Homo sapiens: one gene and its partners. The protein of the gene in region 5 interacts with the protein of the main gene of each other region in a pairwise test. Each region holds a gene or a part of one and is shown on either strand. Other genes may lie near its edges.

Region 1 (3,500 bases), on a different chromosome or scaffold from region 5:
TCCCCTTTTTGGGCTGGCATTCCCTCCAAGTCTTAGCTTGGTATCACTTCTGGGAAGGCCCCTTGGCCCCATCTAGGAGCAGTACCTACTCTGAGTTCTCTCATCCCTTTTTTTTTTTTTTTAATAGACACGGGGTCTCTGTGTTGCACAGGCTTTCTTGAACTGCTGGCCTCAAGTAATCTGCCTCGGCCTCCCAAAGTGCTAGGATTACAGGGATGAGCCACCACACCCAGCCTCATCCCCTTCTCTTCTTGCCCTATCATACTGAGCTGTCACTGTCAACTTATGTCTCTCCTACTAGTGAGCTCCAGGAGGACCAGAATGGTCTTTCACCCTTTTATCCTCAGACCCAGCAGGATTAGCTCACAGCAGCAACAAATGTTTGCTAAACCAATGAGCAAACACATGCTAACAGTGAAAAATACTTATGACACTGTTTCAAGGAAGACTAGAATGTAAAGTTGCCTATATGCTATAACTTTATTTTAGATGTATATGGATTGAGGAAAGAACTCAAATACCTTTTTTTTTTTTTTTTTTTTTGAGATGGAGTTTTGCTCTTGTTGCCCAGGCTGGAGTGCAATGGTGCGATCTCAGCTCACAGCAACCTCCGCCTCCCGGGTTCAAACCATTCTCCTGCCTCAGCCTCCAGAGTAGCTGGGATTACAGGCATGCGCCACCATGCCTGGCTAATTTTGTATTTTTAGTAGAGACAGGGTTTCTCCATGTTGGTCAGGCTGGTTTCAAACTCTGGACCTCAGGTGGTCCGCCCGCCTCGGCCTCCCAAAGTGCTGGGATTACAGGCATGAGCCACTGCGCCTGGCCCTCCATATCTTTTATAATTCTGTTTCACTGACTCTATAATATTCTTTTTTTTGGAAACGGTGTCTCACTCTGTTGCCCAGGTTGGAGTGCAGTGGCGTGTGGCGTGATCTGGGCTCACTGCAAGCTCCGCCTCCTGGGTTCACGCCATTCTCCTGCCTCAGCCTCCCTAGTAGCTGGGACTACAGGCGCCGGTCACCACACCCGGCTAATTTTTTTGTATTTTTTTTAGTAGAGATGGGGTTTCACCGTGTTAGCCAGGATGGTCTCGATCTCCTGACCTCGTGATTCGCCTGTCTCGCCTCCCAAAGAGCTGAGATTACAGGCGTGAGCCACCACGCCCAGACTTAATATTCTAATATTCAAAATACAACATAGCTCAGGGAGCTATGGTGTTTATGGCATAATTCTGCAAGGGGTTCCCTAGGTCTCAGCTGAAATAGATAAAAATCAATTAGGCCGGGTGCGGTGGCTCACGCCTGTAATCCCAGCACTTTGGGAGGCCGAGGTGGGCGGATCACGAGGTCTAGGAGTTCAAGACCAGCCTGGCCAATATGGTGACACCCCATCTCTACTAAAAATACAAAAATTATCCGGACATGGTGGCTCGTGCCTGTAGTCCCAGCTACTTGGGAGGCTGAGGCAGAAGAATCATTTGAACCCAGGAGGCGGAGGTTGCCACTGCACTCCAGCCTGGGTGGCAGAGTGAGACTCCGTCTCAAAAAAAAAAAAAAAAAAAATCAGTCAATTATTAGCCAGGCATGGTGGTGCATGCCTGTAATCCCAGCTACTCGGGAGGCTGAGGCAGGAGAATCACTTGAACCTGGGAGGAAGGGGTTGCAGTGAGCCAAGATAATGCCACTGCACTGCAGCCTGGGTGACAGAGTGAGACTGTCTCAAACAAACAACAACAAAAAAAATCAGTCAATTCTCCTGACTCTAGGATCAAGACAGCTGTACTCACGGTACCTTATAAATGGCTGGTGCTCAACATATAGTAGTTGAATAAACAAACTTTCTTTTAATCAGTAGTTCCCAAACCTGGATGCTCATCAGAACCCCCTATGGAATTTGTAAAAATGAAGCTCCCTGAAAAGCCCACTCCATTCACATCTCTCGAATCAGAATCTCCAAGTGTTTTCTTTTACCTTGGCCAGTTAAATGTGTGAGGCTGCTTAGTGGATTGATGTTCAGAAACCGGCTTTATACAAATGTAGGTGTTCACTCAGTTTCACATGATCAACAACGTAGAGTAAAAGCACTCTGCTAGATACCGTGGGGAATAAAGATCAATCAGGGTTGGACCCTGCTAAAGGGATAAGATCAAGTGGGCAGGAGTGGATTCCTAAAACCTCCTACACCTCCTCTCCTCTACTGGCTTTTCTTCTTAATGAGCTGAGAAGACTGAAGTGGTCTGAAGATAAATGCCGCTCCACCCCGAGCATTGCTACAATAGCCTCTGTCTTCCCACCTATCGCCAGCTCCTCTTAGAGCCAAGCCTTGATTTATGCCCCGGAGCCCACTTCCTTTCACCTTCTCAAGGACATCATTTCAAGAATTCTCCCATCTTTCTCCTATATTATCATTTTTAAATTTATCCGTTGCATCATTTCCATTGGCATGCTAACATACCTTTATTTTCTCTCAGCCTTTTAAACCCTCTAGGCTCCCACCAGACATATTTGGAACAACTTGAGCACTCACAATAATCATTGCCCTAACTAATAATAAGACAACCAATACATTAAAACCTATAATTAAAGCCTATAGCGATGCTCAGAAAAGAGGAAGAATTTAATTAATTTACTTGAGATGGAGTTTCGCTCTTGTTGCTCAGGATGAAGTGCAATGGCACAACCTTGGCTCATTGCAACCTCCACCTCCTGGGTTCAAGTGATTTTAGTGCCTCAGCCTCCCAAGTAGCTAGCATTACAGGCATGCACCACCACGCCCTAATTTTGTATTTTTGGCAGAGATGGGTTTCACCATGTTGATCAGCCTGGTCTCGAACTCCCGACCTTAGGTGATCCACCCACTTCTGCCTCCCAAAGTGCTGGGATTACAGGTGTGAGCCACCGCACCCGGGACTCTTCCTTTTTTTTTTTTTAGATAAGAGTCTCACTCTGTTGCCCAGGCTGGAGTGCAACGGCGTGATCTCGGCTCACCCAACTTCCGCCTCCCAGGTTCAAGAGATTCTCCTGCCTCAGCATGCCAAATAGTTGGGATTACAGGCAGGTGCCACCACGCTCAGCTAATTTTTTTTTTTTTTTTGAGATGGAGTTTCGCTCGTTGCCCAGGCTGGAGTGTAATGGCGCAATCTTGGCTCACCGCAACCGCTGCCTCCCGGGTTCAGGTGATTTTCCTGCATGCGCCACCACGCTCAGCAAATTTTGTGTTTTTAGTAGAAACGGGGTTGCTCCATGTTGGTCAGGCTGGTCTCCAGCTCCCGACCTCAGGTGATCCGCCTGCCTCGGCCTCCCAGAGTGCTGGGATTACAGGTGTGAGCCACTATGCCTGGCTTTCTGATTTAATATTTAAAAAGCTATTAAACAGTTTGGGGACAACTGGGAAAATGTAAACCCTCACTGGATATCACATATTAGGAAATAGTTAATTCTAACAGATAGGATAACTGGGTGTCTTTTTTTTTTTTGAGATGGAGTCTTGCTCTCTTGCCA
Region 2 (3,500 bases), on a different chromosome or scaffold from region 5:
AGTCTCTTTCAATCCTAATCCACAGGGAAAGCCAAAATTCTAAGTCTTTTCCTAAAATTTAGCTAATTTCTTATCTCCCTCCCCTAATACTTGGTAACTGAAAATAGTAAAGGTTAATTTTTAAAAAGCCTTGATAAACTACAATCCTGACCATTGGAGTATAATTTACTTTATATATTAATATTTCATTTAAAAACATTTTACTGATCGATCGATTGATTGATTGAGACAGAGTCTTCCCTGTCACCCAGGATGGAGTGCAGTGGTGCTATCTTGGCTCACTGCAAACTCCGCCTCCTGGGTTCAAGCCATCCTCCCTCCTCAGCCACCTGAGTATCTAGGATTACAGGTGTGTGCCACCATGCCTGGCTAATTTTTGTATTTTTAGTAGAGACCAGGTTTTGCCACGTTGGCCAGGCTGATCTCAAACTCCTGGCCTCAAGTGATCCTCCTGCCTCGGTCTCCCAAAGTGCTGAGGTTAAAATATTTTAAAATGTAAACTTAAATGTTCAGAAGTCATTTTATTTAAGACCCTTCTAAGTTCTGAGTAAAGGCTAAGATTGCGAATGGTGTAAAACTGTTACTGTGTTTTGGAAGTAGTTCACCACAGTCTTGCACTCCTGGCCTCAAGCCATTCTTCTGCCTGAGTCTCCGGAGTAGCTGGAGCTACAGGTGCGTACCACATCACACCTAGGCCTCCCAAGTAGCTGGGATTACAGCAGTGAGCCTCTGCACCTGGCTGCTTAAGCAAAGGTAATTTGGGTTCTCGCACCTTGCAACCAATGGGGTCATAGTCAATACATGGATCTGTGCCAATCTGGGAAATCTAAAAATAGGTAAACTTACATTTCAAACAGTCCTTGTTTGAATTTTTGTCAGACTTTATTTTCAGATATTTGGTGAAGGGTTCTAATGTGAGCCTGACTGGGGGCTGGGGAAGCCTGTACATATGAAGTTAAAATCTGCGGTGTAGTGCACAAAGTCCCCTGAGGGTCCTGTTCAGGCCTTGGTGTTGAACATCATCTATTCACTGATGTCACCAGATCTGCAGCCTGGATTCCTGAACTCTACTCTCCCATATCTAATTTCCTACTGACAGCATCCACTTCTTTGTTTAGTGTGTATTTCAACCTCAACACATCGATAACTAGACTCCTAATCGCCTTCCTCAAACGGCTCCACTGCATCTTCTGCTGACTCAGTAGAAAGCAATGCCATTCTTCCTGATATTCAGGCCAGAAGCCTGACCTGATCCTTGATGTCTTTATTTTCCTCACACCTGTATCCAACCACTAGGAAAACCGACTGAATAGACCTTCGAAATAGATCCGGAGTCTGTCTTCTACCCCCAACCTCCTCTGCTCTCCCCCTGGTCCAAGCCACCATCATCTCTCACCTGGATTCACTTTCCAACAGGTCATTCTACTTGCCCCCTTTCCCCGAATAGACCATTCTCAGCACAGGAATCAGATGCGTCCTTCTTCTTTTTAGAGATGGGGTCTCACTATGTTGCCCAGGCTGGAGTGCAGTGTCTATTCACAGGTGCAAATATAGTGCACCACAACCACAACCTCAAACTACTAGACTGGAAGTATTCTCCTGTCTCAGCCTCTGGAGTATCTGGGACTACGGGCTCGTCCCACCTTGCCTGGCTAAAAGCATCCTTTTAAAACCTTAGTCTGGCCATGTGACTTTTCTGTTTAAAGTCATCCAATAAAGCCCCCATCTCACTCAGCAGAAAACCCCACGTCCTGAAAACCGAAGTCCTGATCTAGTAAGTCCCCCGTGAAAAGGTTCTGCTCCTTCTGACTCAGGGCCTTTTAGTGTTTTCTTGTTCACTTGGCTCCCACCACACCAGCCTCTCTGTTATTCCTCAAGCTTGCCAGGCAAACTCTAGACACCGTGGTTGTATCTCTTCCCTTTACCTAGGATGTCCCTTCCCCAGGTATCCATGAGCTGTCTTGAACCCCTTCACATCTTTGCTCAAAATCTCACTTTTTCCAGGCAGCTTTTCCCGACTATTCTGAAAAATTTGGCAAGCCCCAAATCCCAACAACTGCCATTTCTCTCCAGGCAATAAAATACCACATAAAATAATATTTTCCTTCTTTTGTTTGCAAGTACTTGCAAAGGAGCTGACAAGTTTTATACTATATGATAAGTATTCAGAAGAAAAGAAGCTCCTGAAGAAAAAATTATTCAATAGAATTATTTCCTAAAATCATAAATATATTGTTTATAAGAGACAATAAATTATTCTTTTGGCCATAAGCTAGTTTGAGTTGGTTTCTGTCACTTCAAAAGGATTAAGATGAATACATTCATTTATACTGATCTGGCAAATTTAAAGAATAAATGTTAATGATTCAAAGGGCTTTCGTTTAAATCTATGTCTCCTAAAAATTACATTAAAGTATTATACCTATTTATCCAATGGTCATACTTCTGGAAATTTTTCTCGAAAGAAATAATCTTAAAATCAGACAAAGGCCAATGCATAAAGAAGTTCATTTGATGCCTCATTTGTAATGGTCAAACATTAAAAATAAACTAAAATTTTAGCACTGTATTAGATGTTTTCAAAATGTAGCTCACAGACCTGTAGGGATCCCTGAGACAATTTTAGGTGATCTGTAAGAAGAAAATCGTTTTCATGACAATGCTGAGGTGCTGTTTGCCTTTCTCATGGTGTTGACATTTGCACTGTTGGAGCAAAAGCCATGGTGGGTGAGACTGCTGGGCGTTACCATGAATCCCAGCAGGGACACTAACAGGATGACTATTCATTGTACTGTTTACCGATGCATACTGTGAGTTGGTTTTTTAAAAATGCCAGATTCACTTACAGACACTTGACGAAGCAGGAAACATAACAGTTTTATTACATCTTTACCCTAAAGCTCACGTTATTTTTAATGTTCTATGTCCTGTGTAATAAAATGGGAAGAAGGCACAGTGTTTCCTCCACCTCCTGAGCAGCACGGCTATTTTCAAGCAGAGTATGTCTGTGCTTGCTTGAGTTGCAAATTCGACCAGCTGCTTTTCTTCATGGAATTCCATTTCTTTCTTAAAAGAATGGCTACCTAAAAACGATGGTTATGCGGTCTTTTCTATTTGTCAAACAATTTCTTACAGATAAATGAGCCCATCACTCCTACAATTACAATTGATGGTGTTTATTATAAATAATAAAATTGAATCTTTCAAGAAAGAATAGAATTTTAGAAAACTTGCATCCATCAGCATGAACTTGACAGTTTACTTGAAGACTTTCTGATGAGATCATGGTAATGTTAGTAGTTGTGATATTTTGATATTGTATAACAAATTGTATCAACATTTGGAAGATCTGTGTAACACAGTGAACCAATCATTTCCAAATGATCAACTTTTTATGTTACAAAATCATGTGTGGGTAAAACATTCCTTCCAAGGGTATGATAGACCAATGAATTTTAAGATGACAGAGTACAGAAAATGTGTTGATATGGCATCTGACT
Region 3 (3,500 bases), on a different chromosome or scaffold from region 5:
AAAGGCCATATTAGGACTTATCATCTGAGTATAAATTATTAATACTGTCACACCAAGTGGAAGCATGTGGGAATGCTCATTGCCCTTTAGTTAATTTGTAGGATTGCTTCATTATACTTTTACGTATAGTCTGTTCAGAGAAAAATATTAAATTTGTCCTTCCCCAACAAACTTGATATTGTAGCTGCTTAAATAATGGCTATTGTATTCCAAGCATCAGCTGAGAACATAATACTCAGACTGTGTATCAAAGTTTTGAACTTTGATATTTGTCTGTGAAGAGCCTTCTGTGGGAATGGTGGTTGCTGAGGATGGTGTATGATCATAAATGTTAACCTAAATCATGCAGTAACTTGACCATGGAATGTTGTCTGTGATTTCTCTCCTTTGCCTCATCTTGATTACAGAGAGGTACAGAAAGCAGTCAACACTGCCCAGGGATTGTTTCAGAGATGGACAGAGCTCCTCCAGGACCCCTCCACAGCAACAAGGGAAGAAATCGACTGGACCACCAACGAGCTGAGAAATAACCTCCGGAGCATAGAGTGGGATCTAGAGGACCTTGATGAAACCATCAATATCCTTTTCTGTGGTGTCTGTGCCATTCGGGATAAATAGACAAATGGACAAGTTTTTCTCCAGTTGTTTCCAGTATGTAGATGAAACATTTTATAATCGATTAATGTTTGTTGCTCTTACTTGTACCATGACATGTTTAAAGTATTTGCCCAGTAACTTAAGGTACAGTAGCCAAATTCTTATACAGTGTGTGACAAATCCTGTACTATAAATGTATATATATATATAAAGGCAGCATAGTGTAATGATTATGACTGTGGACCCTGGAGTCAGATTTCTGGTGTTCAAGTCCTGCCTCCACCAATGTAAAGGGAAAAAAAAAAAACCCTTTTTTTCTTTTTTTTTTAAGTCTCTACCCTCACACTCAAGTCAGTATGATATTTCTGACACTGTCTACTTGGAGATAGCATCAGGTCCACAGGTTAAGAGCTCAGTCCCACAAGACTGCCCCCACTTCAGATGCCAGTTGCAAGCCCTAGGTTGTGACCAGCGCTTCCAACTGACCACGTATAAATTGGAGTTCCCACGACCCCCTCCATAGATCGAATTAATTTAATTTGCAAGAGCAGCTCACAGAACTCCGGGAAACAGTTTCCTTAGGTTTATCCATTTGTTGTAAAGGATATTACAAAGGATACAGATGAATGACCAGATGGAAGAGATGCATGCAAGGTATGGGAGAAAAGGTGCAGCACTTCCAGGCCCTCTTCAGGTGCCTCCAGGAACCTCCACATGTTCACCTATCTGGAAGCTTCCTGAACTCTGTCCTTTTGGTGTTTGTGGAGGATTCATTTCGCAGGCATGATTGATCACATCAGTTGGCCATTGGTGATCAGCTCAGCCTTCAGCCCCTTTCCCCTGGGGTGGGGTTAAGCAGGGGGCTGAAAGCTTCAACTGTCTAATCACATGGTTGGTTTCTCTGGGGACCAGCCCCTCGTCCTGAGGCTATCTAGAAACCCCCAGCCATCAATTATCCCATTAACATACAAAAGATACTCATCTGGAGATTCCAAGGGATCAAGGAGCTGTGTGCCAGAAATGAGGGGGCAGAGACCGAATTTGCATTTATTACAGTATCACAACCAGTTACCATGTGACTTGGGCTCATCACTTAACCTCCTGTGCTTCCGTTTCCTCTTTAGTGGAAAGTTAGGATAACAAGAGTACCTAGCTCATAGGATTATTGGGATTATACAGGTAAAGAGTTTAGAATGGCACCTGGCACACAGCTTATGTAATAGTGTTAGCAGTCATTATCATATAGAGGTCCATACAGGCCAGTGTTACACTTCGGTAATTAGAGATCAAAAAATCTTTTTGTAGACTGTCTTCATGTTTAAGAAGTGATGTTACAGTGCTACCGTCCATTGAAGAGATGTCTTGTTCCATGAAACTGCATTTAGTAAAAGCAGATCTGCTCTGCTAATTCATGGTATTGATGTGAAGTAAGTCCACTGATCTGACTCATGCACTGGAGAACTGTAAAAACTTCATTATATAGCCTTTTTTTCCAACTGGAAATCCCACTTAACCAAAACTTTAGATGGAAGATATGCCACTTGCATGTTCTGAGTTCTGTTTTGTTTTTTCCCTAAGTGAGATAAAACATAAGGAAACCAGCTTCTGTCAGGATCACCTTATAGTTAGCACAGGTTCGTATGCAGTTGATACATGGAGTAAATAATTTTTGTTATTCATGATGACCCTGGTACCTTTTACATTATTAAAAGGCAAGTATGTTCTCTAAAATTAGTGGCAAATATGTGAGGGGGCAGGATCAAAAGCACAGTTACAGGGAGATAATTCTTCCCTTGAGAAAGGAGGGAAGGAAAAAAAGTTAGGGGAGATAGAGAAAATGTGAGATTAAAAAAACAAAAGTTTTAATAGATACTCATCATTCAACCAGCAAGTGTTTATTGAGTATACTATGTGCCAGGCATTTTGTTGGTTACAGAGATTAGATTAATAAACACTATACCAGCCCTCACAGAACTTTGAGTGGATAGGGATGGGGGACAGATGGTAATCAAGTAATAACACAAATAGATACCTGCAGACTATGAACGAGAAGTATAGAGAGCTATGCAAGTGTCTGACATGGTGCGTCGGACCAGGCTAGAGGGTAAGGGAATGAGGGCAGCTTCTCTGAAGAAGGCCCGATCTCTCTAGATTAAGAAGTAGGGTTAGCATCTTGGCATAATGGGAAGTGGTTTGGAATGGCAGGAGAAAAAGGCTTGCAAAAGCTGTCTTAGTAAAGGTGATCAGGAGTCAAAAAAGGATAGACACAAGTGTTGGCAAACAGGAAGAGCCCAGCTCACCTGTGGTCAGATAGCCCTAAGTGTTTGCAGTGAAGCTCATCAGCAGGGGCTATGCTTCCTAACCAGACAGATCATCTCTGTCTTGGAGCAAAGGGATCCTCCCTCCTGTGGCTGTGGGCAGAGGAAGTCTGAGAATGATTGGTGTCCAGCTGACTGTGTTTTCAGAAAGTTTGAGCCAGATTTTATTTGTTTGCATGTGAGAGATTCAGTGAGTTAACAGGATGTTGTCAGGCTTTGATGATGAAATTGTTTTACCTTGACTTTTTGACCTACGCATAGTTGAAGCAAATCCTAGAAAATTTAACCTTGATGCAACTGAATTGAGTATAAGAAAAGCCTTCATTACAAGTACTCGGCAAGTTGTCAGGGTAAGGAATATGATCTTATTGTGTTATCTGTATAAGAAATAGCCAGACTTCTTAGAGCTCTTTCCCTTAATTGTAAACTAATAGGTCACCTCTGAAACCACTTTTTAAATATGAATTAAATGTGAGCTTCCCCATATATAATTTCTCTGATTGGCTGCGCATGGTGGCTCATGCCTGTAATCTCAGCACTTTGGGAGGTGGAGGTGGGTGGATCACTTGAGCCCAGGGGTTTGAA
Region 4 (3,500 bases), on a different chromosome or scaffold from region 5:
ACCTTGCTTTGCTGACCAGGAAACATGCTGTGACAAGCTGAGCGGCCATCTGCTATACAGCTTTCTGCCTCTGAGGTGTTCTTAGAGTGGGAAGTGTTGTAGGGAGGTGTTTGGGGGTTCCCAAGACTACCCTCAACTTCACTGATTCACTGGAAGGATGCACAGAACTGTTACACGTATGGTGATGGTTTCTTACAATGAAAAGATGCTGATTAAAACCATCAAATGAAAAAAGTGCATAGGGCAGCGTCCAGGGGAAACCAGGCACAAGCTTCCAGTTGTCCTCTCCCCATGGAGTCATGTGGACAACACTTCTCCAAGCAGTGCGTGACAACACACACAGAGTATTGTCAACCAAGGACCCTCACTTAAGCCTGGGTGTCCAGAGTTTTTTGGGGAGTCTGTCACATAGGCATGGCTGAGTATAGTCTCCAACCCCACCAGAGGTCAAGCTGATAACGTGTAGCCCAAGGCCACCATCATATATCACATTGTTAGCATAGTCTGTCTGACCTGGTCTAAGCTTAGGCTCACTTGAGCAAGGACACTCTTATCAGGCAGGATATTCCAAAAACAAGGAACCAGGCTAGGGCCACACCTCTCTTTGGAATGTGGAGTGTATGGACAACCCAGAGCTGCTGAGCTAGCCTTTTGCTCAGCCCCAGGTTGGCCTGCACACAGACGGCGAGGGGCACCAGCACTACCGCCTTTGCCCTTGGTGGTTTTTCCTGCACCCTAAGACCCGATTTGTCTCTGAATCCACCCCATACTCCAGCTGCCACAGTCAGAGCCCCGGGTTTGAGCATCTGCCATGGGTGCTCACGTATCCCTGCCAAGGCTTGTGCCTGTGCACACTCCCTTGGGAAGGGAGAGATGGAACAAAGATAAATTTCAGATTTCTAGATTCAGCTCACTGACTCCAGATTGGCCTCCGTCTACTTATGATGAACCTCATTTATCAGAACCTGAGTTTACGAGCTCAGTATGAGAAACACAGTATTGATGCCCTTCCGTCAGGAACCTGGGGAGGTCTCGGTCACGGAAGCCCACCTGATGTTATAAGATGTGTTGGCTGCGAGTTGCAGTTGAGATCTGTTGGTCACTGCTGCCCTTTGAAGGCCTTAGTGACATCCTGTGGGTGTTCCCTGCCGAGTCCTGTGGGTAGCCCCGCTCACTCCCCACACGGTTCCTCTGCCCCTGCACAAGCTGCACCCTCTGCCTGGTGCCCTTGCCCCACCCCAACTCTTCGTTGTGATTTGTTTTTAGGAAAACTAAGTCCAAATGGACAGGACCCCCAACTTTCTGACTGCCTAACTTCTCAGTCTCTCCTCCAGCCTCAACAGGGAGCCTCTCTGACCCCCACCTTAAGCTAAACAAAGAGTCTGCAGGGAGAGGTGACTCTGTGTGTGTATGTGTTTGTGTGCACGCGTGCAGTAGCTTTAGTTTCTGCCTCCCCCACAGGACTGTAAGCTCAGTGAAGCAAGGACTCATCTGCCTTTCTTGGATTCCGAGCATTGCAATGTTGTCAACAAATGAAAAGCTGAGATTGAACCTCACTCATCTTGCTCTCTGTTAGACTGTAAACACCATCAGGACAGAGACTTGGGATTGTTTCGTGGACAAAGAGAGAACTCTTGTTGGGGTTCAAGGGAGTAAGAAGGGCATCACCTGTAATGCTTAGTAATCACTGAAACAAGGAAGCACTTTGCATGTGCGTCCTTTACACTGAGGGCACCTGCGGAGCTCACTCCCCTAGCAGCCACCCAAGTCCGTTCAGGGACCTCATTCTCCCACGGGAAGTTGGAGAAGATGGGCCGTGGCTCTGCGGAGGGGGGTGTGGACCTGCCTCGGTACCTGGAGCGGTTGAGGCCTGTCTTGGTGGTGGCTGGGGCACAGGTGTCTGCCTGGCCTGTCCTTACAGACTGTCAGTGTTCTCTTTCCTGGTATTTTGGTGTTTGCTCTGTCAAACCCTTCTTCCTCATTGGTTGGAACTAGGTCACAAGCACATTAAGTCCGGTCATTTCCTCTGCCTTCTGGGGGTGGATTTTAGCAGAAGAAACAACTCCTCCCTTGCTGGCCTCATGACCTCTGGTGAACACTAGCTTTCAGCAAACAGAAACTTCCAGAGGCCAGAGCAGCACTCAGTCGCCTGGCCTTCCAGCCTCACAGGCAAGATAAGCCACCCTCACAGACTTCTCTGTGCTCCCATCTAAACATCTAAATCAGCCATCTGGTTTCCTTAACAGTAGCACAGACTCTGGGAGTTTGAGAGAATGTGTCTCTTGTGAATAAGAGAAAATAAGTCCATACTGGGGAAGGTAGCTCTCCAAATTGAGATGAGGAGGTCAGGGTGGGAGGGTGAGTGGTCGTGGGTTGGCCCTGATGGGAGGAGCTCACCATCAGGGAAGCTGAGGACCTCCCTCCTAATGTGACAGCAGAGTCTTGGCCACCTCTTCATTCCCCAGTCCCCAACCTGGCTGCTCTGAGTGTCTTTCCAGCTACTGGAAAGCTTCTTCTGCAGCCTGCAAAGCTAGCTGGAACTGGACTGTCAGAAAAACATGTAGATGCTGGAGAAAATCTGTTAATCCTAACGTATAGCTCTGCCTTATTCCAGAGAAGACCGCAGTGTGGACATGAAGATGATAAACTTGAGGTGATGGAAGGAGCAGAAATGCCAGATACATTAGCAGCTCTTTTTTCTTTTGAAAACTAGCCCTTGCAAGATTTGCTTGACATACTGAGTGACACTATCCAGAAAACATCTTTTTTTTACTTAAAAAAGGCTGATGGTTTGTTCAGACATCTCTTGTGAACTAGTGAAAAACATAAACGTTGAAAGCTGTAAAATTCAGCAGTTCTAAGTTTATTTCCAGCAAGAGTTAAACAAAGTTTAATAGTAAATTCAACCAACCAGTGTTTTAGCTTTTTGCCTATACATTATGTTTTTAAATTTCACCCATTAAACAAGGACTCAGGTTACACATTGATTCCTTAAGGACTTTAAGGAAGCCACAACCATTTATTTATAGTTGCATTTTGCTCTTCAGGTTTCCAGGATGTTTAAAATTTTTTTTGACTTTGTTTTTAGGCATCAAGAGAGAATATATCTAAAAAACATTTGCATAGTTAGTGTAATTGCTAAGCCACAGGGTGATGGGTGGATAGATTCAGAGGAAGGCAGCTGAGGGCAGAGGCTGCCTGACAGAGCAGGAAAAATGAAGCTCGAGAGCCTTCTGGCTGGAAAGGCAGCTCACAGATGGGCCGCAGCTGTAGATCAGTTCTGAACTAGGGACTGAAGCAAGTTTGTCGTAAATAAAGGAAAGTGGTAGTGTTGATGTTGTGAATGTATATCCACAACCAGAACCATCAGCTCTGGAGGGACCATCAGGCTGCCACTGTGGCCACAGAGCATCACTCACGTCTCCATTGGGCAGATTTGCAGAGACTCAGCAGTGAACAGAGCAAGTCCCTGCCTCGTGGAGCTCATATGCTGTGAGCGG
Region 5 (3,500 bases):
GGAGGAGAATAACAGAAAAGAGGAGAGGCCAGGCCACACAGATGCATGGGGAGTGTGGGGCTGGGAGGAAGCAATTCAGTGGACCCATGAAGGCTCTGCACAGCTCCAGCTGTTCCTCTTAGTGAAAGGGGTCTAATGACTGTCAGCAGTAGAGAAACAGAGTATGATGCAATGCTTAGAAGGCTCACTCTGGCTACTCTGTGGCATGGGGATGTGGGGTTGGCAAGGTAGGGAGAGCAAAAGCAGGGAGACCGGTTTGAAGGATCCTGCAGCGATCAAGTGTGAGCTGAGAGACAAGGTAGTGAGTTGTGCCAAGACTTGGGAGCAGGAAGGACACCGCTCACAAAAATTGCTCACAGGTTGTAGAGAAAGAGAAAAGGCAAGGAAGCCTGTAGTTTAGCGGGGAACACTGGGTTGGGGACATCTGAGAATCCAGTCCCAGACATGTTGGGTTAGAGATGACTGCTGGACAAAGTGGAGAGGTCAGCAGGCAGGTGGATACAGTAATCTAGCATTTGGAGAGAGGTCTAGGCTGCAGTCAGATTTCTGAGTCACTGGCACACAGATACTTAAAGCTGTGATGCTGACTGAGTGTACAGAGGTGACCTCTTACACTTTCTTCACTGGGCCTTAGAGTACTAAGCAATACAGCTGAAGGTTCTTTTGGCAATGCTAATGTTCTGACATGAATCAGAGAGAGTGGAAACAACAGGTGATCTCTGTAAATCTTAATCAGCTCTCATGTCTTAGATGTCCACTCCAGGAAAACAGCCCATCTACTTAGCCAGCTAGTAGACTTTGCCAGAAAGTCTCCAGGCAAGGCCATCTATGACCACTCTACACCTACGATCACTCTCAGACTGAGGAGAGGAGAGTTCTTTGAGTCAGCTTATCTGCCTGCTTCACATCTGAGGAAGTGTGCCCACTGCTTACCTTCTCAATGTCTACAAGTTCAGTCTCATAGATCTCTGCAATAGTAATGTGGTGCTTGGCTGCAATTGTAAACCTTCCCTAGGGGAAAAAACAAGAAACAGTCACACACCGATTTTACCTATCTGAATGCCAGTTTGGGAACATAAAAAAGAAAGATAGAACTCTAAGCCATCTCAAGACTCCACCCCACAGCCACTCAAGCAATGCAATGTCTTACCATGTCTGTGTAAATGTCGATGGCTGCATTTAAGCAGTTGATAGCCTCTGAAGCGTAGGCATTTAAGAAAAACAATGAAAAATCCATTCAGTCAAAGAGGGTTCAGGTGAGGCTGTCTTCCTGGCTGTTATCAGAACGTTAATGAGGTATAATTTTGGAGTGGAGGGTGGGCAGGTTAATGAGAAGCAAACAAAAATCATGCACAAGTCCAGATTCATCAGCATGGCTTTGTTCCCAGCAGCTATAGTATAATTTAGGGAACTGTAGCTGGAGTAACATTGGCTTAGTTACTCTTAACCTTAAAGTGAGGACTCCATCCAGGCAAAAGACTGTATTATAAAGAAAATAAAACCATAGAGGTTGTCACCAACACTGATAAATTGTATCTGCTAAAATATGAATGCAAACATATTCCTCATTAATACCATGCATATATATTAATTTTGGAACATGGCACCACATCACAAGAACAATCACCTCAATAGATTCTACTCTCCATGCAGCCAAAAGCAAAAGCACTTTGAAATGCCTATTCAAACAACCCTTAAGCAAAGTCAACATTCTGTATAATGTTCAAAGATGCTAAATTGTAGCATACTAACAAAATGAAGAAACAAATCTAATAAATAATAATGCTAATAAATTTTACTAATTTTCTAAACAAGTGAGCCAAAAAATTTTCCCTATCATAAAATGATGGTGTTTATGATGCTGGCATACAGTGACAGCTCCAAGTTTATTACGTTTGGTTTAAAGAGGCAGCAAAGTAGAAAGGCCTGACTACAAAATTAGAAAGGTAAGCAGATGAACAAAAATTAAAACAATTTCCCTCTAAACTACATAAAAAATGTGGATCCCTGTTACACCTTTTAAAATACAGAATATAAAGAGAAAAATAATCTATCAATAATCCCGCTCAAATCCGTTGTTAGTACTCAGATGTACTTTCCTTTTGCGTTTATTAGACACATTTCTATATGCACAAACTTTTTTCTGAAAATGAGATTATACAACATTCAGTCTCATGTGCTTCTTTAATTGACATGTAAACATTTACCAGGTCACTGAAGATTCTCTGAAACCAGGGATTTTAATGCCTGCACCATATTCTAAAGTACTGATGCATTACAATGTTACCACTCTAACAGCTTATTTAACCTGTGTCCAGTTTGTCACTTTGGGAAATAAACTGTGATTAACCCTTATACCAAAGGTATTGAAGATACCCTATTTCTTTATGACATATTTATTCTCAAAATTTGGGATCTGTGTGTTAAACAAAATGGACTGCTAAAAGAAAAAGGAAAAACACAAAATTTCCGCTGTGCACGCGTGTGGAAGGTAAGAAATTAATACTTTTAATTACACTCTTCTAACTAAAAAGAAATAATCTTTGCAAAATTTTACCACATTAAATATCCAATTGCATTCTTTCCTCAAAACAAATACTTTGAAAAACTTTTTAAAAAACCAAATGAATACTGTATGAATCAGACTTTTTAACGATTGAATATTACAATCTCCCATTAACTGGATCTGAAAACTCCTTAGGTATTTAGGAGTAAGGGAACATAAGAGTTTCCTTTTATGAACAATATACATTTTCACAAAATTAAGATATAAGAAGTCTTAGATAAAATTAAAGGTAATTTCCAAAAAATTCTCTAAAATGCAATATAAATAAGAGTTTAATTAAATGATGCTATAAAGTAAACAGCCAGTATAAATTTAACATAATTTCTCCTCATAAAAGCCCCCAAATGATTAAAAAAGAAAAATCCCTAAGGTTATCAAAATTCTCTATTATTCCAAAATACAAAAATTCCTTTTTACCAGGACTTGAAAGCACACCAACACTGACCTTAACGTTGAGGGAAGTACTGACTGGTTAGTTACACACAGAGATAGCATGCTACATGCCTGGCTGTCTTACCTTGGGGATCTGCCTTTTTGTAAGCATTTCCAGCATCCACAAAGCTGGTAGCAGAGTCATGTTTGCTCTGAAGCTGCATGTGGAGCTTGGCTGCCTGACAAAATGCGTTTCCTGCAGCTGAAGAAGACACTACAATTAAACACAGAGGAACAAGTCCCCCCCAGAGCAGCCCATGCTGTAAGCACTGGACCTCCCTAGAAAAATTATATTCCACTGAAAAGAAGCATTCTAGTCAGAAGCAAAAATCCATGTGGTCCAGTGCACCTCGGGCAAATATAAAAATAACCAGAATCAAGTCAAACAGCGATGAAAGCTTCTCCACCTCAGCTCCAGCAGACTTTCCAAGTGTCCCTGGGCACTAAGCCACTATTCCCTGATCTGTCCATTCAATACCAGTAGCCAAGTCTTGGGCTACTC
Region 6 (2,221 bases), on a different chromosome or scaffold from region 5:
CAGTGGTTCTCACAGCATGGTGTTTGAGCTCTGAGAACAGACAGACTGCCTCCTCAAGTGGGTCCCTGACCCCCGTGCAGCCTAACTGGGAGACACCTCCCAGTAAGGGCCGACTGACACCTCATACAGGCAGGTGCCCCCTGGGACAAAGCTTCCAGAGGAAGGATCAGGCAGCAATATTTGCTGTTCTGCAGCCTCCACTGGTGATACCCAGGCAAACAGGGTCTGGAGTGGACTTCCAGCAAACTCCAACAGACCTGCAGCTGAGGGACCTGACTGTTAGAAGGAAAACTAACAAACAGAAAGGAGTAGCATCAACATCAACAAAAAGGACATCCACAACAAAACCTCATCTGTAGGTCACCAACATCAGAGACCAAAGGTAGATAAAACCACAAAGGTGGGGAGAAACCAGAGCAGAAAAGCTGAAAATTCTAAAAACTGGAGCACTTCTTCTCCTCCAAAGGATTGCAGCTCCTTGCCAGCAACGGAACAAAGCTGGATGGAGAATGACTTTGACGAGCTGACAGAAGTAGGCTTCAGAAGGTCGGCAATAACAAACTTTTCTGAGCTAAAGGCAGATGTTCAAACCCATCGCAAGGAAGCTAAAAACCTTGAAAAAAGATTAGACGAATGGCTAACTAGAACAAACAGCGTAGAGAAGACCTTAAATGATCTGATGGAGCTGAAAACCATGGCATGAGAACTATGTGACACATGCACAAGCTTCAATAGCCGATTCGATCAAGTGGAAGAAAGGGTATCAGTGATTGAAGATCAAATTAATGAAATAAAGTAAGAGAGAAGTTTAGAGAAAAAAGTAAAAAGAAACAAACAAAGCCTCCAAGAAATATGGGACTATGTGAAAAGACCAAATCTACATTTGATTAGTGTACCTGAAAGTGACGGGGAGAATGGAACCAAGTTGGAAAACACTCTGCAGGATATTATCCAGGAGAACTTCCCCAACCTAGCAAGGCAGGCCAACATTCAACTTCAGGAAATACAGAGAACACCACACAAAGATACTCCTTGAGAAGAGCAACCCAAGACACATAACTGTCAGATTCACCAAGGTTGAAATGAAGGAAAAAATGTTAAGGGCAGTCAGAGAGAAAGGTCGGTTACCCACAAAGGGAAGCCCATCAGACTAACAGCTGATCTCTCGGCAGAAACTCTACAAGCCAGAAGAAAGCGGGGGACAATATTCAACATTCTTAAAGAAAAGAATTTTCAACCCAGAATTTCATATCCAGCCAAACTAAGCTTCATAAGTGGAGGAGAAATAAAATCCTTTACAGACAAGCAAATGCTGAGAGATTCTGTCACCACCAGGCCTGCCTTACAAGAGCTCCTGAAGGAAGCACTAAACATGGAAAGGAGCAACCGGTATCAGCCGCTGCAAAAACATGCCAAATTGTAAAGACCATCAAGGCTAGGAAGAAACTGCATTAACTAATAGGCAAAATAACCAGCTAACATCATAATGACAGGATCAAATTCACACATAACAATATTAACCTTAAATGTAAATGGGCTAAATGCCCCAATTAAAAGACACAGACTGGCAAATTGGATAAAGAGTCAAGACCCATCAGTGTGCTGTATTCAGGAGACCCATCTCACATGCAGAGACACACATGGGCTCAAAAAAAAGGGATGGAGGAAGATCTACCAAGCAAATAGAAAGCAAAAATAGCATGGGTTGCAATCCTAGTCTCTGATAAAACAGACTTTAAACCAACAAAGATCAAAAGAAATAAAGAAGGCCATTACATAATGGTAAAGGGATCAATTCAACAAGAAGAGCTAACTATCCTAAATATATAGGCACCCAATACAGGAGCACTCAGATTCATAAAGCAAGTCCTCAGAGACCTACAAAGACTTAGACTCCCACACAATAATAATGGGAGACTTTTAACAACCCACTGTCAGTATTAGACAGATTAACGAGACAGAAGGTTAACAAGGATAGATATCCAGGACTTGAACTCAGCTCTGCACCAAGTGGACCTAATAGACATCTATAGAACTCTCCACCCCAAATCAACAGAATATACATTCTTCTCAGCACCACATCACACTTACTCCAAAATTGACCACATAGTTGGAAGTAAAGCACTCCTCAGCAAATGTAAAAGAACAGAAATCACAACAAATGGTCTCTCAGACCACAGTGCAATCAAATTAGAACTCAGGATTAAGAAACTCACTCAAA
Region 7 (3,500 bases), on a different chromosome or scaffold from region 5:
CCAGGTCATAACAGGGGTAATAAACACCACCACTATGCTGTAAATTATAATTTTACATCATACAGAACAAATCCCACAAATATTATAGATTTATTGTCCTAGGAAGAAATGCTATCGTTATCACTTAACATTATTCAGTAATTTTAATTAGTTCTAGAACACAGGGAAACCACATTCAAATTTTATGATAATTATGAAAAAGATAGTGATCTATTGTCAAATTATTGTTTTCACAATATTGATAAAATTAACATACATATTATTCAGTCCATGTCCATCTAGGAGGTTATTTCCACACTTAATCTCCCAATAAGTTGTTTAAAGAAATCTTTATCAAGTCCTGCTTGCTATGAAAAGTGTGGAAATAAAGTAAGACATGCCTGGAAATTTTAGTTTCTACTTAAATTAACTGAAGAGAAAAATCTTTATTAGACACCTGTAGTTGAACGTTTATGCATTGGCTTTTGTGACTGTGATTAGAAATTGCCAGAAAAATCAAACCCTTGCTACTCCGAGCTCAGGCCAAAACTCTCTGAGTATGAGTACAGGCATTTCATCCATTCCATAGCTCCAAAACAGAACAAAAATGCAGGGAGTAAAACATGAGCCTTTGTGAAATTATTATCAATAGATACTATAGTGTCTTTGAGGAAAAAGAGTTTAAAACTGAAGCTGGGAAGGGGAGTTAATGTCCCTGAATGTGTAATGAACTAGGAAACAACGCAAATGTACTTAAAATGCCTGTTGTAACACCTGATTAAATTGTTCTTAAGGAGATTCAGGTTTAAGAGTTTGATTAATAGTAATTAATAGTATAAGAGGAATTTATAAAACTGCTTATATATTTTGCTATTTGGGAATAAATAAAACTTTTGTATTTGATGAAAACATTGATAATTGAAAATGTTAATTCTATAAAAAATCTGTACATTTACATTTTAATTTTAAAATATGAATTAAATATTCTTTAGAGATATTCAACATGGATATTATTTCAAAAATGAAGAGGCATTTAATAATTATCATTAATAATAGTAAACATTATCTTGAACCAAGTTGTCCAATTAATTTAGCCAAAAACAGATAGCAACATAAAGAACATCCAAATAGCTTTTTTGGGCTTGGAAAGATAACCCAGCCAGATGGATTTTATAACCAGTGTTATGGTTGTAATTGTCCTTATTAAATTGAAATGAGAATTTTGTCTTATAAGAAATAAGAAAGAAAACTTTTTCATAAGGCAAAAATTCTATCCTGTCGTGTTCTTTAGAACTGGCTCATATTTCTCTCCCTTCTCCCATGTAACTCATTATTCTTGAGAATTAATTTTTCAGCTGGATGGACATGTAGGAAAAGCAGCTTTCATCCAGTTTGATGAACAGCCGTAAAACTCAGTTATTTAACAGTGACTATGAACAGTAGAAATTAGAAAGATCCCCTGCCCAAATGCAAAACACTCAGGCACTTTTTATCTGATTTTTCTAACTCTAAACGCAATGAAGACTGGTTAAACAGATGTAATCAAAATATTCAGGCATCATTCTCATATGCCAAACCCATCAAGATGGGCCTGATGATCATGGATGCCCTTTTCTGTTCTATATGCTCAGGAGATTGGAAAACCCTGCCAAATGCTTCCATTATGCTTTGGGATCTTGAACAATGACTGAAAGGTTTGCAAAGCATCTCAAAAACGATATGGGTCCAGAAGTTGTTTATTTCTGTAATTATATGGCATAAAATAATACATTTGTTTATCTTTTTTAAACAAAATAAGAAGAAATGTAGAAAGAATACATTACCTGATCTTTCATCGTCTTCCCTAAGTCTTTTACATCTTTCATGTTAATGGCATTCTTCCCTCCTTTTTCCTTTCCCTTCTTCTTGTTTTTCTTTTTGAACAAACATTTCTTACAGATACAAAAGCAGCAGGTCAGGACTAAAAGGACTGCGACTATGGCTATTGCAATTAAGGCCCACGGTGGCACTGAAAGAAACACACAGAGAGCACTAGTCATACAACACTTAGATGTGGAAAACCTTTTAACTCATGGGCTATAAAGATATTCATTTTTTTCATTTGCATTTTTGAGCACCTGTTATGCTGCAGGTACACCATTCCTCAGTACTTTATCCATGTTGTTGTCTCCCTTGAGTGTATTGTTTCCTTTCTTTCCCACTTTGCCCTTCCAGATATGTCAAATGTCATCTCCTCCCTATTACTTTTCTTGACTCTCCAAGCTAGATTTCTAGGAACACATCTCTTCACTCATTCAGAGCCAAGCTTTGGAGTTCAGCCATTGAGTTTAAATCCTGGCTTCACCATTTACTAGCTGTGTGATCTTGGGCAAGTCATCTAACCTCTCTCTGCCTCACTTTCCTCATCTCTAAAGTGGAAATAAATTGGTAGGTACCCCATAGATCTTTCTGAGTATTAAATAATAAGATGCAGTGCCTGGCACATGGCAAAAGCTTAATAAATGGCAGCTGCTATTACTCATCTATAAAATACTAGGTGTTGTATTCTTATGTTCTGGCATGGTATGGGGCAGATATTAGTTGTATATATAGAACAACAAATGTCAAATCATAACAATAGTGAAGGTTAATTAAAAGTACTTGGTGATTTGAAAATCAAGCATGGGGAAAATGTATGCACTGAAGTTCTCCAGATGTGGGTGATGCTCATGTGTTCGGTGGCTCTTAACCCAGGTTTAGATTTTGGCTTCGGCCACTTAGAGGCTGTGTGACTCTACTCAGATTGCTTCACTGTTCTGAGTTTCTGTTTCCTCCTCTATACAGTGAAGATTACAGTGGTACCCATTTCATCTGGCTTAAAGATGAAAGGGATTAATATGTTAAAAAGCTTTTAATGCATCTGGAACATAGCAAGAGCTCAATTAATGTTAGCTATCAATTCTTTTTTTTTTTTTTTTGAGATGGAGTCTCGCTCTCTTGCCAGGCTGGAGTGTAGTGGCACGATCTCGGCTCACTGCAAACTCTGCCTCCTGGGTTCAAGCAATTCCCCTGCCTCAGCGTCCCGAGTAGCTGGGACTTCAGGCACACGCCACCATGCCCAGCTAATTTTTATATTTTTTTTAGTAGATACGGGGTTTCACCATGTTGGCCAGGATGGTCTCGATCTCCTGACCTTATGATCCACCTGCCTCGGCCTTGCAAAGTGCTGGGATTACAGGCGTGAACCACCACACCTGGCCAAAGTTAGCTATCATTTCTTTATAGTCAAGGCATGGTGGGTAAGGCAGAGAGCTCAGGACATATGAAAAAACATAAACTACTCACACAAGTAAATACCTAAAAAGCAAGATAAATACACAGAGGGGAGTTTAGTGAAAATGCAAAGGCAATGAGAGGAGGACGGATGATTTTTAGATAAGAGGAGAGGCTTAGGTTTACAGGCTGTTTAAAATAATAGAACATATATACATAAATATACTAAAATAAACATTGAGTTTTCTATTACAGTTGTCTCTCTGATA

What was found.
Region 1: the proteins of NAPB (region 5) and STX5 interact in binary tests that used the Homo sapiens proteins (3 or more experiments, as listed by UniProt).
Region 2: the proteins of NAPB (region 5) and DSCAM interact in a two-hybrid assay, tested with the Homo sapiens proteins (one large-scale study listed by BioGRID and IntAct).
Region 3: the proteins of NAPB (region 5) and STX6 interact in binary tests that used the Homo sapiens proteins (3 or more experiments, as listed by UniProt).
Region 4: the proteins of NAPB (region 5) and SNAP29 interact in binary tests that used the Homo sapiens proteins (3 or more experiments, as listed by UniProt).
Region 6: the proteins of NAPB (region 5) and TAF1B interact in a two-hybrid assay, tested with the Homo sapiens proteins (one large-scale study listed by BioGRID and IntAct).
Region 7: the proteins of NAPB (region 5) and SYT1 interact in binary tests that used the Homo sapiens proteins (3 or more experiments, as listed by UniProt).

The regions. Positions count from the first base shown.
Region 1 is NC_000011.10:62,811,552-62,815,051, forward strand, and holds part of STX5 (syntaxin-5), read right to left. Parts: intron 1-3,500. UniProt on the Homo sapiens protein: Mediates endoplasmic reticulum to Golgi transport.
Region 2 is NC_000021.9:40,333,159-40,336,658, forward strand, and holds part of DSCAM (cell adhesion molecule DSCAM isoform CHD2-42 precursor), read right to left. Parts: intron 1-3,500. UniProt on the Homo sapiens protein: Cell adhesion molecule that plays a role in neuronal self-avoidance. Promotes repulsion between specific neuronal processes of either the same cell or the same subtype of cells.
Region 3 is NC_000001.11:181,002,371-181,005,870, reverse strand, and holds part of STX6 (syntaxin-6), read left to right. Parts: intron 1-407; coding exon 408-577; intron 578-3,170; coding exon 3,171-3,265; intron 3,266-3,500. UniProt on the Homo sapiens protein: SNARE promoting movement of transport vesicles to target membranes. Targets endosomes to the trans-Golgi network, and may therefore function in retrograde trafficking.
Region 4 is NC_000022.11:20,865,507-20,869,006, forward strand, and holds part of SNAP29 (synaptosomal-associated protein 29), read left to right. Parts: intron 1-3,500. UniProt on the Homo sapiens protein: SNAREs, soluble N-ethylmaleimide-sensitive factor-attachment protein receptors, are essential proteins for fusion of cellular membranes.
Region 5 is NC_000020.11:23,393,989-23,397,488, forward strand, and holds part of NAPB (beta-soluble NSF attachment protein), read right to left. Parts: intron 3,213-3,500; coding exon of another isoform or gene 3,201-3,212; coding exon 3,084-3,200; intron 1,480-3,083; coding exon of another isoform or gene 1,289-1,479; exon of another isoform or gene 1,238-1,288; coding exon of another isoform or gene 1,198-1,237; coding exon 1,151-1,197; intron 1,012-1,150; coding exon 934-1,011; intron 1-933. UniProt on the Homo sapiens protein: Required for vesicular transport between the endoplasmic reticulum and the Golgi apparatus.
Region 6 is NC_000002.12:9,930,474-9,932,694, reverse strand, and holds part of TAF1B (TATA box-binding protein-associated factor RNA polymerase I subunit B), read right to left. Parts: intron 1-2,221. UniProt on the Homo sapiens protein: Component of RNA polymerase I core factor complex that acts as a GTF2B/TFIIB-like factor and plays a key role in multiple steps during transcription initiation such as pre-initiation complex (PIC) assembly and postpolymerase recruitment events in polymerase I (Pol I) transcription.
Region 7 is NC_000012.12:79,284,274-79,287,773, reverse strand, and holds part of SYT1 (synaptotagmin-1), read right to left. Parts: intron 1,988-3,500; coding exon 1,803-1,987; intron 1-1,802. UniProt on the Homo sapiens protein: Calcium sensor that participates in triggering neurotransmitter release at the synapse. May have a regulatory role in the membrane interactions during trafficking of synaptic vesicles at the active zone of the synapse.